3 separate regions of the Homo sapiens genome follow, and all the other regions are linked to region 1. Evidence: fine-mapped expression QTL. A gene starts in region 1. Each other region holds a variant in brackets. All regions are shown on one strand. Distances are from middle to middle.

The links. PIP is the estimated chance that this variant, and not a neighbour inherited with it, causes the effect.
Region 2: its variant is fine-mapped to the expression of SHF in sigmoid colon (GTEx, PIP 0.98).
Region 3: its variant is fine-mapped to the expression of SHF in whole blood (TOPMed, PIP above 0.99).

What each region holds. Positions count from the first base shown.
Region 1 is chr15:45,186,220-45,190,219 of GRCh38, forward strand. It overlaps SHF (Src homology 2 domain containing F), which reads right to left and starts at 1,747. Exons shown (of 7, transcript NM_001394037.1): 1 at 1,235-1,747. The coding sequence starts at 1,732. It overlaps LOC124903481 (a long non-coding RNA gene), which reads left to right. Exons shown (of 2, transcript XR_007064608.1): 1 at 1-239; 2 at 1,896-2,599. RefSeq lists an enhancer at 175-727 and a silencer at 1,642-1,691.
Region 2 is chr15:44,903,354-44,907,700 of GRCh38, forward strand. No RefSeq gene overlaps it. Among named protein-coding and RNA genes, the nearest start is that of TERB2, 51 kb to the right of the region's middle. The variant C/T (reference allele first, on the strand shown) is at 1,788.
Region 3 is chr15:45,283,086-45,287,358 of GRCh38, forward strand. No RefSeq gene overlaps it. Among named protein-coding and RNA genes, the nearest start is that of SLC28A2-AS1, 6.0 kb to the left of the region's middle. The variant C/T (reference allele first, on the strand shown) is at 1,904.

The DNA of each region.
Region 1 (4,000 bases):
ATGGGCAGCCATGCCCCATGGCAAAAACTAGGGGAAAAATAATTTGCATTCCTGAGGCTTCTGCTCTGACCCTGACAGATCTCTCTCATCCAGGAAATCTGGCGGAACGGCGCTCTCTCAGCTAAAAAGCCTCAATCCTGGAGCCAACGGATTCGGAAAGCAACTTTGCACTCCAATCAAATAAAAATGTTCTTCTCTGCTGAGGAGAAGGGGGCAGGCCCCAGAACTGAGCTCTCGGGGTGAGTGAAGAAGGACAGCAGAGCCAAGGCAGCCCACAGAGTCATCATCACAGAATTTAGGGGCCTGGGATGGCTTTCAGCTCTCACTCTGCCAGGGAGGGATAAGGCCAACCCGAATCAGGGCAGGGCCCTGAGGCATGGTGGATTTCCTGTTCTCCTCCCTATCCTGGTGCCTGCAGACCCAGGAAAAGCTCCAGCCTCCCTCAGAATGGACCAGGGGGAGAGGGAGGCCAGGAGGAGAGGAGGAATGGGCTCAGCTGCTTAGCCCCATGTGGGCAACAGGTCCTGAGCACTGACTATCCTCATACCTGAGAGGACGAGGGAAGGAGGGAGGAGTGGGCCTGGACCCCACGAAGCCCCCTTGGCAAGAGCTGTAAGCTGCCTGTCTTCGCCTCCTGAGAACAACAGCCTATAGGGCAAAGGCCAGCTCGTGCTGTGTCCGCAAGGAGAAACCCGTCTTCACCTCCTTTCTGGGGCTTCAGCACCTGCAAGGATGCTTAGGCTGGAGAAACAGGAGGAGGAAGAGGAGGAGGAAGCAAAGAGGCAACAGGAGGGAAGAGCTTTGTGCTGGCTATGCCCAGGGGGAAGGGTCAGAGATCAAAGGGCACTGAGCCGCTGCTTCCAGAGGGGCAGAAAGGCCATCAACCAGTGGGGGTTGGGAGGTGCGCCTCAATTCCCGTTAGCAAAAGGCTCATGGATCAGGCTAGAGGGGGCTACGAAGTGGAGAGCCAGCCCGGGAGGGGGAGGGTCACCAGTTCTGGGGCCATTACAAAGGATAGGGCAGAGGGGCAGAGTTTGGGGCTTCCGTCTCAGATTAGTCGGTTGAGAATCTGAACAAAGGTGGGTGAAGGCTCGGAACCCCGGGGTCAGGGGCTCGCGTCTGCCAGAAGCTGAGACACCGAGGGGCCCGGGCCAGGCCACCTTTGTCCCTCTCGCAGCCTCCAGACCCCTGACCGCCTTCCCTCCTGGCCATCCCGGCCCGGCGCGGCACTCACCCTATCGCTGCTGGCGGGGGGTCCGGAGATCCGCTCATCAGCAGGCGGCGCCGGGGGCCCCGGGGTCTCGACCCGAATAAGGCGGTGTGGGGGAGAGCCGTGGCGCGGGGGCGGCGTGGGTCCGGGGGCGACAGGGGTGGCGAGGGCGGCGGAGCCGGACGACCCCCCGGAGTAGGGGTCTTCGAAGTCGCGCTCCCGCTGCAGCCTGTAGGCGGCCAGGATGTCCGGGGGCGGCGCGGGGGGCGCGGCCGGAGAGGGCGCAGGGGGGCGGTAGTCGGGCTCGGGGGGCGCCGGCTTGCTGCCCCCTCCGCCGCCGCCCCCCCCGCGGAAGCCCAGGTGCTCCCGGAGCCACTTGGCTACTCCGCCGCTGCCGCCCCCTCCTGGGCCGGCTCCCGCACCCCCGGCGCCCCGGCGGGACCCCCCCGGGCCGCCCCCAGCGCTCCCCTGCGTTCGCGGCCCCGGGCGGGAGCCAGCCGGAGGAGCTCCGCTCAGTAACATGGGGCCAGCCAGACTGAGCGAGGGGAGCGCAGCGGCGGGTGGGGGGCGGGGGCGGGGGTGGGGAGGGGGGCGGGGCTCCGCCGGGCGGGGAGGGGGCGGGGCGCTTCAGTAACAAGGGAGAGGCGGGGCTCCGCTCCCTAACAGGGTCTTCCTCCTCCCGTAGCTCGGAAGAGTGTACGCGGGCTTCCAGCCGGTATGCACAGGCAAGAAGTGAAGTGGGCAGCCCTGGGGCAGAGGATGCGACTACTGGACTGAGGTTGAATCCTTTACGTGTCGCCACGCGGTCCCCTGTGGGGAGCGCATCCATCCCCATCTGTTCTTTTCCCCAGCTCCCAGCTCGTGCGAGACGCAAAGAGGGGAGCCCCCAGACTCCTGACTCTAGGGAGCCTTACGCCTCTCCTCTTCCCTCTCCCAGGATCTCGCAACTGGGAAACTATAATCTAGGAGGAAAATCTAGGCGGGCAAGAAAAGGGGCTAGGTTCTGTAAGATGTGTCTGTAAGCCTCCTCCTCCCGTGCTACCTTGGGAGCCCCACAACCTCCTCCCATCCAACCGTACGCACTGCACATACCCGAACCTACGTTACTTCCCGATCCAGGCAAACACATCTCACATCACATACAAACAACTCCCTAGAGACGCCCACTTCTCCCGTGTCGTTTTCACACACGCCCTTCTCACACGCAAACAGCCCTCGCTCAAACATCCCCCACCCACGGGAGCACCTGCTCCAAACGGGCCCACATGGCCCTGACGATAGCATGCGCACGCACGCAGAAATCCCTTCCAGCCACATCCCGGGCTTCATTGTCAATCAGATTAGTAACAGAATGGAAACAGACAAGTCAATAAATCAAGTCTAGAAACAGTCCCAGTGTTGTCTATCACAAACTCCTTATCCTCTTGAGGCTCAGATGCTCAAGTGCTAGGCATTTTTGTCTTAGAAATAAAGCCAGTTCCGGCTGGGCGCGGTGGCTCACGCCTGTAATCCCAGCACTTTGGGAGGCCGAAACGGGAGGATCACGAGGTCAGGAGATCGAGACCATCCTGGCTAACACGGTGAAACCCCGTCTCTACCAAAAATACAAAAAAATTAGTCGGGTGTGGTGGCGGGCACCTGTAGTCCCAGCTACTCGGGAGGCTGAGGCAGGAGAATCGCTTGAACCCAGGAGGCAGAGGTTGCATTGAGCTGAGATTGCGCGACTGCACTCCAGCCAGGGCGACAGAGTGAGACTCCGTCTCAAAAAAAAAAAAAAAAGAAAAAGAAAAAAGAAAAGGAAAGAAATAAAGCCAGTTCCTCACCATAAATGTAGGCCTGAAGCCAACACCAACACATTTGCTCTTGGCTCTGCTGGGAAAGCAGCTGTCTCACCTCACTTTACCCCACCCCCTTTCCCCCACTGCCTCAGTGTCTCCGCACTCCTAGGTTCATGTCTGCCTTTTTTTTTTTTTTTTTTTTTTTGAGACGGAGTCTCACTCCGTCGCTGGAGTACAGTGGCACGATTTCAGCTTACAGCAACCTCCACCTCCCGGGTTCAAGCAATGCTCCCAGCTCAGCCTCCCTAGTAGCTGGGATTACAAGCGTGCGCCACCACACCTGGTTAATTTTTTGTATTTTTAGTAGAGATGGAGTTTCACCGTGTTGGCTAGGCTGGTCTCGAACTCCTGACCTCAAGTGATTCCCCACCTCGGCCTTCCAAAATGCTGGGATTACAGGTGTGAGCCAACGGCACCTGGCCATATCTGCCTTTTGAGGGCGCAAAAAGCCAAGAGGCCCCAAAGGAAAGGAGTTCAAAGCGGGGGGTGTAAAGAAGGATGTAATGGCAAAACTGTGAATCTCCTGGGATTCCCAGGGCCCCGAGTCTCAAAATATTTGTTGAGTTCCTGCTTTGTGCAAATTCTAGTTGGGCGAGGTGGCTCATGCTTGTAGTCCCAGGTACCTGGGAGGTTGAGGTGGGAGAATTGCTTGAGCCCAGAAGTTCAAGGCTGCAGCGAGCTATGATTGTGCCACTGGTCAGACAGTGCTGCTTGTATTTAGGACAGTGCTTCTGATCAAGCCAGTGCTGCTTGTATTTAGGACAGTGCTTCTCAAACTTTAATGTGGACACTAATCTCCTGGGGATCTTGGTAAGTTACAGATTCTGACTCTCTAGGTCTAGCTGGGGTGGGGTCCCAGGTGATACAGATACTGCTGGTCCCAGACCACATGTTGAGTAGCTGGACTGTAGGAGATACTGGAGAATCTGATGTTGAACTTGGTTTTATGAAG
Region 2 (4,347 bases), 280 kb before region 1:
ACTTTATTAGAATCCACATATAAGTGAGATCATGTGGTATTTATATTTCTGTGCCTGGCTTATTTCACTTAGCATAATGACCTCCAGACTCATCCATGTTGTTGCTGGAAATGACAGGATTTCCCCCTTTCGGGGCCTAGTTGTTATCATAGTGATGCTATGAGTCCACCAGGGAAAACAAAGTTACCCTTCTTCTGAATCATCCTGATTTTTTCCAATATCCCTCTTTTCTGCCCTGCAGAAACCAAGGACTAGTGCTCTTAGAGAATTTGACCTATATGTTATTCTAGCACCTACTTCACTTTGCCTTACAGTCAGTTGTTTATATTTCCAACTCTCCAACCAGATTATATTTATAATGGAAGGGTCCCACTCCCTGTTATCTCACTTTACAGGAAAAGAAAAAAAAGCTGTGAGTTTAGCACTCTGTCATCAACAAATGTTTGTTGAATGAATGCGTAAATGAATGAATGAGACAACCCTAGCAGGGTTGATGAATGTGTATTATGGAAGCCTTCGTTTTATCTGGCACCTCCAGGTCCATACAACCTGCTTCCTAATAAACAGTGAAACAGGGCACTGTTGGGTCCCAGTCTGGAAACTGAAGGAAATATTTTCCTTTATCTTCTGGATCCTTACATGTATGAATTCAATTCATCAAATAGTACCTGAGTAACTCCCATATTCCAGGCACTGTGCTGGGTGCTGTGGGAGCTGCAAAGATTAGTAAGAAATAATCCTTGCCTTCAAGTACCTAACAATGTAGTAGGGGCCTTTGGCAGGTATACACAAGTAATTATAACTTTAGGTTGAGTAACCTAAGTGCTCTAAGTGGACTAGAGTCCTGTGGGGAGAGGGGGCAAGAAGAGGAGGTTGCCAAAGAAGTTTCATTCAGAGATATCCTTTGAGATGATGCCTGAAAGAAGGACAGGATTTGGACAGATGGGAATGGGGAGAGGGAAAGAAACAGCTTTTAAAAACCTAACAAATGGGCTGCGTGTGGTGGCTCGCACCTGTAATCCCAGCACTTTGGGAGGCTGAGGCGGGTGGATCACAAAGTCAAGAGACCGAGACGATCCTGGCCAACATGGTGAAACCCGTCTCTACTAAAAATACAAAAATTATCCAGGCATGATGGCGCACACCTATAGTCCCACCTACTCAGGAGCCTGAGGCAGGAGAATTGCTTGAACCCAGGAGGTGGAGGTTGTGGTGAGCCAAGATCGCACCATTGCACTTCAGCCTGGTGACAGAGCAAGACTCCATCTCAAAAAAAAAAAAAAAAAAAAAAAAATCTGACAAATGAGGAAGAAACACAATACAGAGTAGGTATGGTGAGGAGCCTAACTAAGACAAGGAAATGAACCCGATTTTAAAGATAAGAGCAAAGTGAAATAAATCACAACACTGTGACAAGGAAACAAACCTCTTTAAGAGGGGTGAGGGCCCCACAGTTGGCAGGCACCCTCGTTTAAGTCAGCAACACCATGAAGGAAAGCTCTTGAGATTGGGAATTCCAGGAAGAGATGAGATCTGTGCCACACCTTCATCTGTGTCACACCCTCATGATTGCAGAGGCAAGGAATGGAGGAATGAAGGGCTCTCTGATCAAGAAAGAGGGAATCTCCTAAAGACTGTGACACAATCAGGTTGAGCAAAGCCCCCGAGTGACAGAGAAAGGATGAGAAGAGATCAGATACGCTGGAAATAACTTTATGTAACACAGAAGACATGGGCAATAGTCTGGCTAGTGAGTACTACATGCTCTGGAGATTAGGGGAACCATA[C/T]GAACGGGAAAACAAATAGCAGGCTGGGAAATCACCCCAGGGTGGGGAGATGGAAGAAGAATGGAGACAGTGATAGTGAGAACTGGAGTGTAAATTCTAAGTGACAGCCTTTTCCAAGCCACTAAGGTCAGGATCCAAGGCCTGGAGTAGGGTAGGTGGTTCTGTACATATCACAAAAATTGCACCCACAACAGTGGGAAAAAAATTCCAAGACTGATATTGAGGCAGGTGTGTAAAACAAAAGCAGAGACAATCTGATTTAAGGAAAAGATTGATTTACTTTCAATTTTATTTTTAAATTTCAGATCCACCTAATGCCCTGAGCAGTTTTACTTCAGAACAAAGAGCAGGCCCCTTTACCTTTCAGAGCCTGCACACAAGGGAGCCTGAAGAACACACACATTCTGCACTCAGTGATACACCATAGCTGTAAAGGAAACTAATAAAGGCAAGCATGCATTGATCATGTGGCAAATGCTAGGCCCTGTGCAATGCACTTTTACAGGCATTTTCTCATTTAATCCTTCAATATTACTATGGCATTGTTACTATCTTCATTTCTCAGATGCGGAAACAAGTTACATAGCTCACTAAGATGACAAAATCTAGTAATTAGTGGGGCTGTAGGAAGATTTTTAATATTATAAAATCACTATTTTTCCCAGTTAAAGGACTGCTCAGATTTTCTCTTTTTCATGGCAGTTTTAGTAAGATATATTTCCTAGAAATTTAAATAGTTCATGTAAATGTTCAAATTTATTGACATTAATTTGGTCATAATTTCCTCTAATTTTTTTAAATGTCTCTAGAATCTGAGATGTATTCCTCTTTTCATTTTTGATATTATCTGTGCCTTCTTTCTTTTTCTTTGCCAGTCCTATCAGAAATTTATAAATTTCTTTTAGTCTTCAAAACTCAACTTCTTGATTTGTTGATCATTTCTACTGTAAGTTTGTTTCCTATTTTATTAATTTCTTCTATCTCTACTACAATTCCATATTATTTCCTAACTTCTATTTTCTTTGGGGTTTTTTGGTGATTTTTTTCTTTTTCAATTTCTTTCTTCCTTTTTTCTTTTTTTTTAGATGGTCTTGCTCTGTTGCCCAGGCTGGAGTGCAGTGGCACAAACATGGCTCCCTGCAGCCTCAACATCCCAGCTCAAAGCATTCCTCCCACTTCAACTTCCTGGGTAGCTGGGACTACAGGTACACGCCACCACACATAGCTACTTTAAAAAAAATTTTGTAGAAATGGGGTCTCCCTATGTTGCCCAGGCCTGTCTCAAACTCCTGGGATCAAGCAATCCTCCCGCCTCGGCTTCCCAAAATGCCAAGATTACAGGCGTGAACCACCACGTCCAGCCCCTATCTTCCATTGTTTTACTTTCAACATTTTAACATCCTTAAATTTTAAATGTCTTTTATAAATGGCATATAATTATTTTAAAACTCTAGCTGCCCAAAGTGGTGATTTAATTGAAGCATTTAGTCCACTTACCTTTAAGATAATTGTTGATATACTAGGGTAAATAATAAACATTTCTACCATGTATCTCCCGTAAAGAGAGAAAAATTTTCCTTGGGAAGAAATGAAGGATATTATATTGATGCCATCTACTGAAAAAATTAAAAAACTGAAAAACTACTCCAAGTAACATTGTTTCCGTTAAGCAAACTTTTAAAAAGCTTTTGTTCAAGGTTTCAACTATGTTATTGTATTGGATAAACACATTCTGCCTTCAGCTATTCATAGATTTCTATCTTTTCCAACCTGTTAGGGTAAAAATGGAGCTGTCATGAACTCTTTGTGTCTTAGGAGGTAAAAAGCTCCCCAACTCTATCTAGTTTGCCCACACTAGATAGAGTCTCCCTCTATTGCCCAGGCCGGAGTGCAGTGGTGCGATCTTGGCTCACTGCAACCTCTGCCTCCTGGGTTCAAGCGATTCTCCTGCCTCAGCCTCCCAAGTAGCTGGGACTACAGGCACACGCCACCATGCCCAGCTAATTTTTGTATTTTTTGCAGAGACGGGGTTTCACCATGTTGGCCAGGCTGCTGTCAAACTCCTGACCTCAAGTAATCCACCCACCTTGGCCTCCCAAAGTGCTGGGATTTCAGGTGTGAGCCACTGTGCCCAGCTTTGAGTGTTTTATTGAACTTAATTTTTTAAGTAAAGACTGGGTTCTTGCTATGTTGCCCAGGCTGATCTTGAACTCCTAGCCTCCAGAGATCCTCCTGCCTTGGCCTCTAAAGTGCTGAGACCACCATGCCTGGCCCCAATTTGAGTTTTCAAAGTACTAGTTTGATGATCATTTATCACTTACTTTGTGACAGGAACCCGAATATGCTAATAATAATGAAGCTACATAGCTTTTTTATTGAGCACTTACTAAGTATCAGGTACGGTCCTAGGCACTTTACATGTATTACCTTGCTTAATCCTCACAATTTCCCTATAATTTTGGCATTAAGATCCCCATTTACCAGGAAACTGAGGCACAGACAGCTTAAGTAACTGGTCCAAGATCACAAACTAGATAAGAGTTACAGTTGGAATTTAAAC
Region 3 (4,273 bases), 97 kb after region 1:
AATGGGTTCAGCACACCAACATGGCACATGTAAGCATATGTAACAAACCTGCACATTGTGCACATGTACCCTAGAACTTAAAGTATAATTTTAAAAAATTTAAAAAAATTAGGTTCAGGGCTGGGTGCAGTGGCTCACACCTGTAATCCCAGCACTTTGGGAGGTCGAGGTGGGTGGATCACCTGAGGTCAGGAGTTTAAGAGCAACCTGGCCAACATGGCAAAACCCTGTCTCTACTAAAAATACAAAACTAGCTGAACATGATGGTGCACACCTGTAATCCCAGCTGTTGGGGAGGCTGAGGCAGGAGAATCACCTGAACCGGGAGACAGAGATTGCAGTGAGCCAAGATTGTGCCATTGCACCCCAGCCTGGGCTACAGGAGGGAAACTCTGACTCAAAAAAAAAAACAATAAATAAAAAGAAAAGAAAAGAAATTAGGTTCAGGATCCAGAATGGCAAAGCTGCTAAAGGTATTGAATGCATAGCTTCAACAGCTTTCCCATGTGGAGGTATTTTCCAGAAAAGAAAAATGTGAGGCGTTAAGACCTGAATAAGAAATATGTGAGTGGCAGAGTGACCAGTGAACCCAAGGCATCAGCATCACCTGCTAGACATGCAGAGTCTCAGGCCTCGCCCCAGACCCACTGAATCAGAATATGCATGTTAACAAGATTCCCTGGCCGGGCACCGTGGCTCACGCCTGTAATCTCAGCACTTTGGGAGGCAGAGGCAGGAGGATTGCTTGAGCCTACAAGTTCAGGGCCAGCCTGGGCAACATAGTGGACCCCGTCTGTACAAAAAAATTAAAAAAAAAAATAGCCAGGTGTGGTCCCAGCTGCTTGGGAGGCTGAGGCAGGAGGATCGCTTGAAGCCGGGAGGTTGGGGCTGCAGTGAGCCATGATCATGCCACTGCATTCCAGCCTGGGTGACAGAGCAAGACGCTATCTCAAAAATAAATAAATAAATAAATAAAATATGTGAGTGGATGAGCCTCAAAATCTGGAGCTCCTAATTGTCCCTAAATCTTCCTGGCCAGCAGAAGCAGTCCCTTTTCTTTCTTATTTATTTATTTATAATGCTGTCAGCAAAACCCTTTTCTCTTGACTAAGGAAAACAGCCTCCCCTTGCCCATCCAAAATAGGTCATTGCAGAATAACTTTCGTTCTTCCCAAGATAAGCCTCCATTCTCTGCCTTTTTTGCCTCCAGTCTGGTAATCTGTGCCAGAGCTCAGCACAGCCTGAGCAGGGAAGTACAGGTCCTGCTCCAGAAGGAGTTAGCCTCCATTCCAAAGGAACTGTAGGACCTGGAGAATATGTAAGAACTGAGGACTAAACTCTAATTTTTTTATCTGCCCAAATTCCTACCTAAGGGGTCTAGGGAGTCATGTCCTACAAACCATAAATTCTCATCAGATGGGTTTTGTTTGACCCTATATATCGTGACTTACTTTTCAATCACTCTGGCATAACATTGAGACAAGGAAGAAATATTTAACCCCAAAATATATTTCCTTGCTATACCTTGAAATTGCCCTACAAAGTCTCTTGTGGGAAAAATACATATCCTGTAGAGAATCCCCTTCCCCCTTTGTTTTCTTTCCTTTCTTTCCAGATCCAGGAGATAATCAACTAAGAGCCAGACACCCTTTTAGGTCTGATAAGAAACATTTTATAACCTGCTCTCTCTCTGAAGTCTGCTATCTGCACAATAAAACTTGGTCTCTCCATAATCCTCTTTCTTAACCTGAACATTCCTTTCCATTAATCCCAGGTCTTCAGATAAACTCAACCAATTGTCAACCAGAAAATGTTTAAATCTACCTATACCCTGAAGCCCCCGGTTTGAGTTGTCCCACCATTCTGAACCAAACCAATGTATTTTATTTTATTTTCTTTCTTT[C/T]TTTTTTTTTTTTTTTTGAGATGGAGTTTTGCTCTGTCACCCAGGCTGGAGTGCAGTGGCGTGATCACAGCTCACTGCAGCCTCAGCCTCCTGGGTTCAAGCGATTCTCCTGCCTCAGCCTCCCAAGTAGCTGGGATTACAGGTGCACGCCACCAAGCCTGGCTAATTTTTGTATATTTAGTAGAGCTGGGGTTTTGCCATGTTGGTCAGGCTGGTCTCAAACTCCTGACCTCAGGTGTTCTGCCCGCCTCAGCCTCCCATAGTGTTGGGATTACAGGCATGAGCCACCATGCCCAGCCCAATATATTTCTTAAATGTATTTGATTGATGTATCATGCCCCCCTAAAAATATATAAAACCAAGCTGTACCCCAACCACCTTGGGTACGTGTTCTTAGGACCTCCTGAGGGCTGTGTCACAGGCCATGATCACTCATATTTGGCTCAGAATAAACCTCTTAAAATATTTTACAGAGTTTGACTCTTTGTCAACAGAATCAGGGTAATGTAGGTGGGAGTAGATCTTGAAAATGTAAGACTGGGGAGAGAGAGAGAGTGAGTGCATAAAATAAGGTTTTATAAGAGAGAATTCATTACCTGAGGGCATACATTCATGAGTGGTTATCCAGTGTTTTGGCAAGAGCACTTGAGGTCACTATAAATAGTTTGTTGTGCTGTTTCCTTGAAGCTTGGACACACCAGAAATAATCTTGGCATTGTACTGGAGAAGGGATCAAAAGTCATAGGAAAATGAGAACGTTAGAATATATTTACTATGTATTAAGACCTGCTAACCCGCCACCTGTCTATATACTCCAAGAGCCCAGGGAACTTCCTTATACTAAGGAATAAGAAATACATTGGTGAAAGGAGCCCTGTCAAGGCCAAGAGTGGGGGATACTGCCATGGAACACGGATCTCTAGTATCAAAAGGGTTGATGGAATTCCAGAATACCAGAAGCCAAATAACACTCAACTAACAGAGCAAAGGTAAATACAATTACCATAATGGGCAGCAATGCCAGTACGACAATCAAGGTGCCTTGACCCATAAATATTTTTGGCAACAATTAGTAGATTTGAGTATTCCTAGGGTTGAGACAGATGGACAGCCATGTAGGATATTACTTAATTTATAAAATAAATGCATGAATTGGTAAGCAGAAGGCTGACATCAGCCATCACAATGGAACATTGGTTTCCCTCAGCTAGTTTCCAAGTCTAAGTCAGTTTAGAAACCCATAGCCCATTGATTGAAGGGGAGGCTGAGTCCACTTGAGAAGGAAACTCCAAAACTACCATAAGTATATACATCAGTATTTTTAGAATCCCTCTCTAAAAGGACAAGTGACATTTTTCAAAGACAACCATAAGTATATACATCAGTATTTTTAGAATCCCTCTCTAAAAGGACAAGTGACATTTTTCAAAGACAACTACACTGGGTAAAGAAGAATACCTAGATGTTCTGAGAGCTGGTATTGGGGACCTGAAATGTTATCATGCCCTGTAGTTAGATTGGTGGTTTCCTAAGTCCAGGTGATGAATAGACCCCCTGGCTCAAGATTATATCACAATGTATCCAGAGGTTTTGCGAACTGGCCTTAAGTTTTTGTCCCTGGTTTCTGAAAGTATAATTGAGACAGATACACTTAGAATCTGGGAAAACTGTCACTTTGGTTTTCTGACCTGTGAAATAAACTTCTTTATGGTAGGAAAGGCCAAATAGAAGCCCCCAAGCCACCTCCTGCCTCTGGTTAAGATACTAAATCAGAAGTATTACCATATCCCAAGAGGAATTGCAGAGATTAGCACCAACATCAAAGACTCAAAGTGGGCTCATGGCTGTAATCCTAGCACTTTGGGAGGCCAAGGTGGGAGGACTGCTTGATCCCAGGGGTTCAAGACCAACTTGGACAACATAAGGAGACCTCATCTCTACAAAAATTAAAAAATTAATCAGGAGTGATGGCACGCACCTGTGGTCCCAGCTACTTGGGAGGCTGAGGTGGAAGGATCACTTGAGCCCAGGAGGTTGAGGCTGCAGTAAGCCATGATTATGCCACTGAACCCCAGCCTGGACAACAGAATGAGACCCTGTCAAAAAAAAAAAAAGACGTAAAAGTGTCCAGAGTTCGTCTTCCAGTCACATTCCCATTCAGTTAGATAGACAGTGCAGCGGAAGTGTGCTGGGCACAGATTCCCATTCAATTCAATTATTTTCAAAAGCACAGATAAATAATGGAGGATGGTAACAGACTACCATAAACTTAACTGAGTCATTGCCTCAGTTGCAGTTCCTATAATATCTTTATTAGAGCAAATCAACACACCTTCTGGTATTTGATACGTGGCTGTTGATTTGATAAAT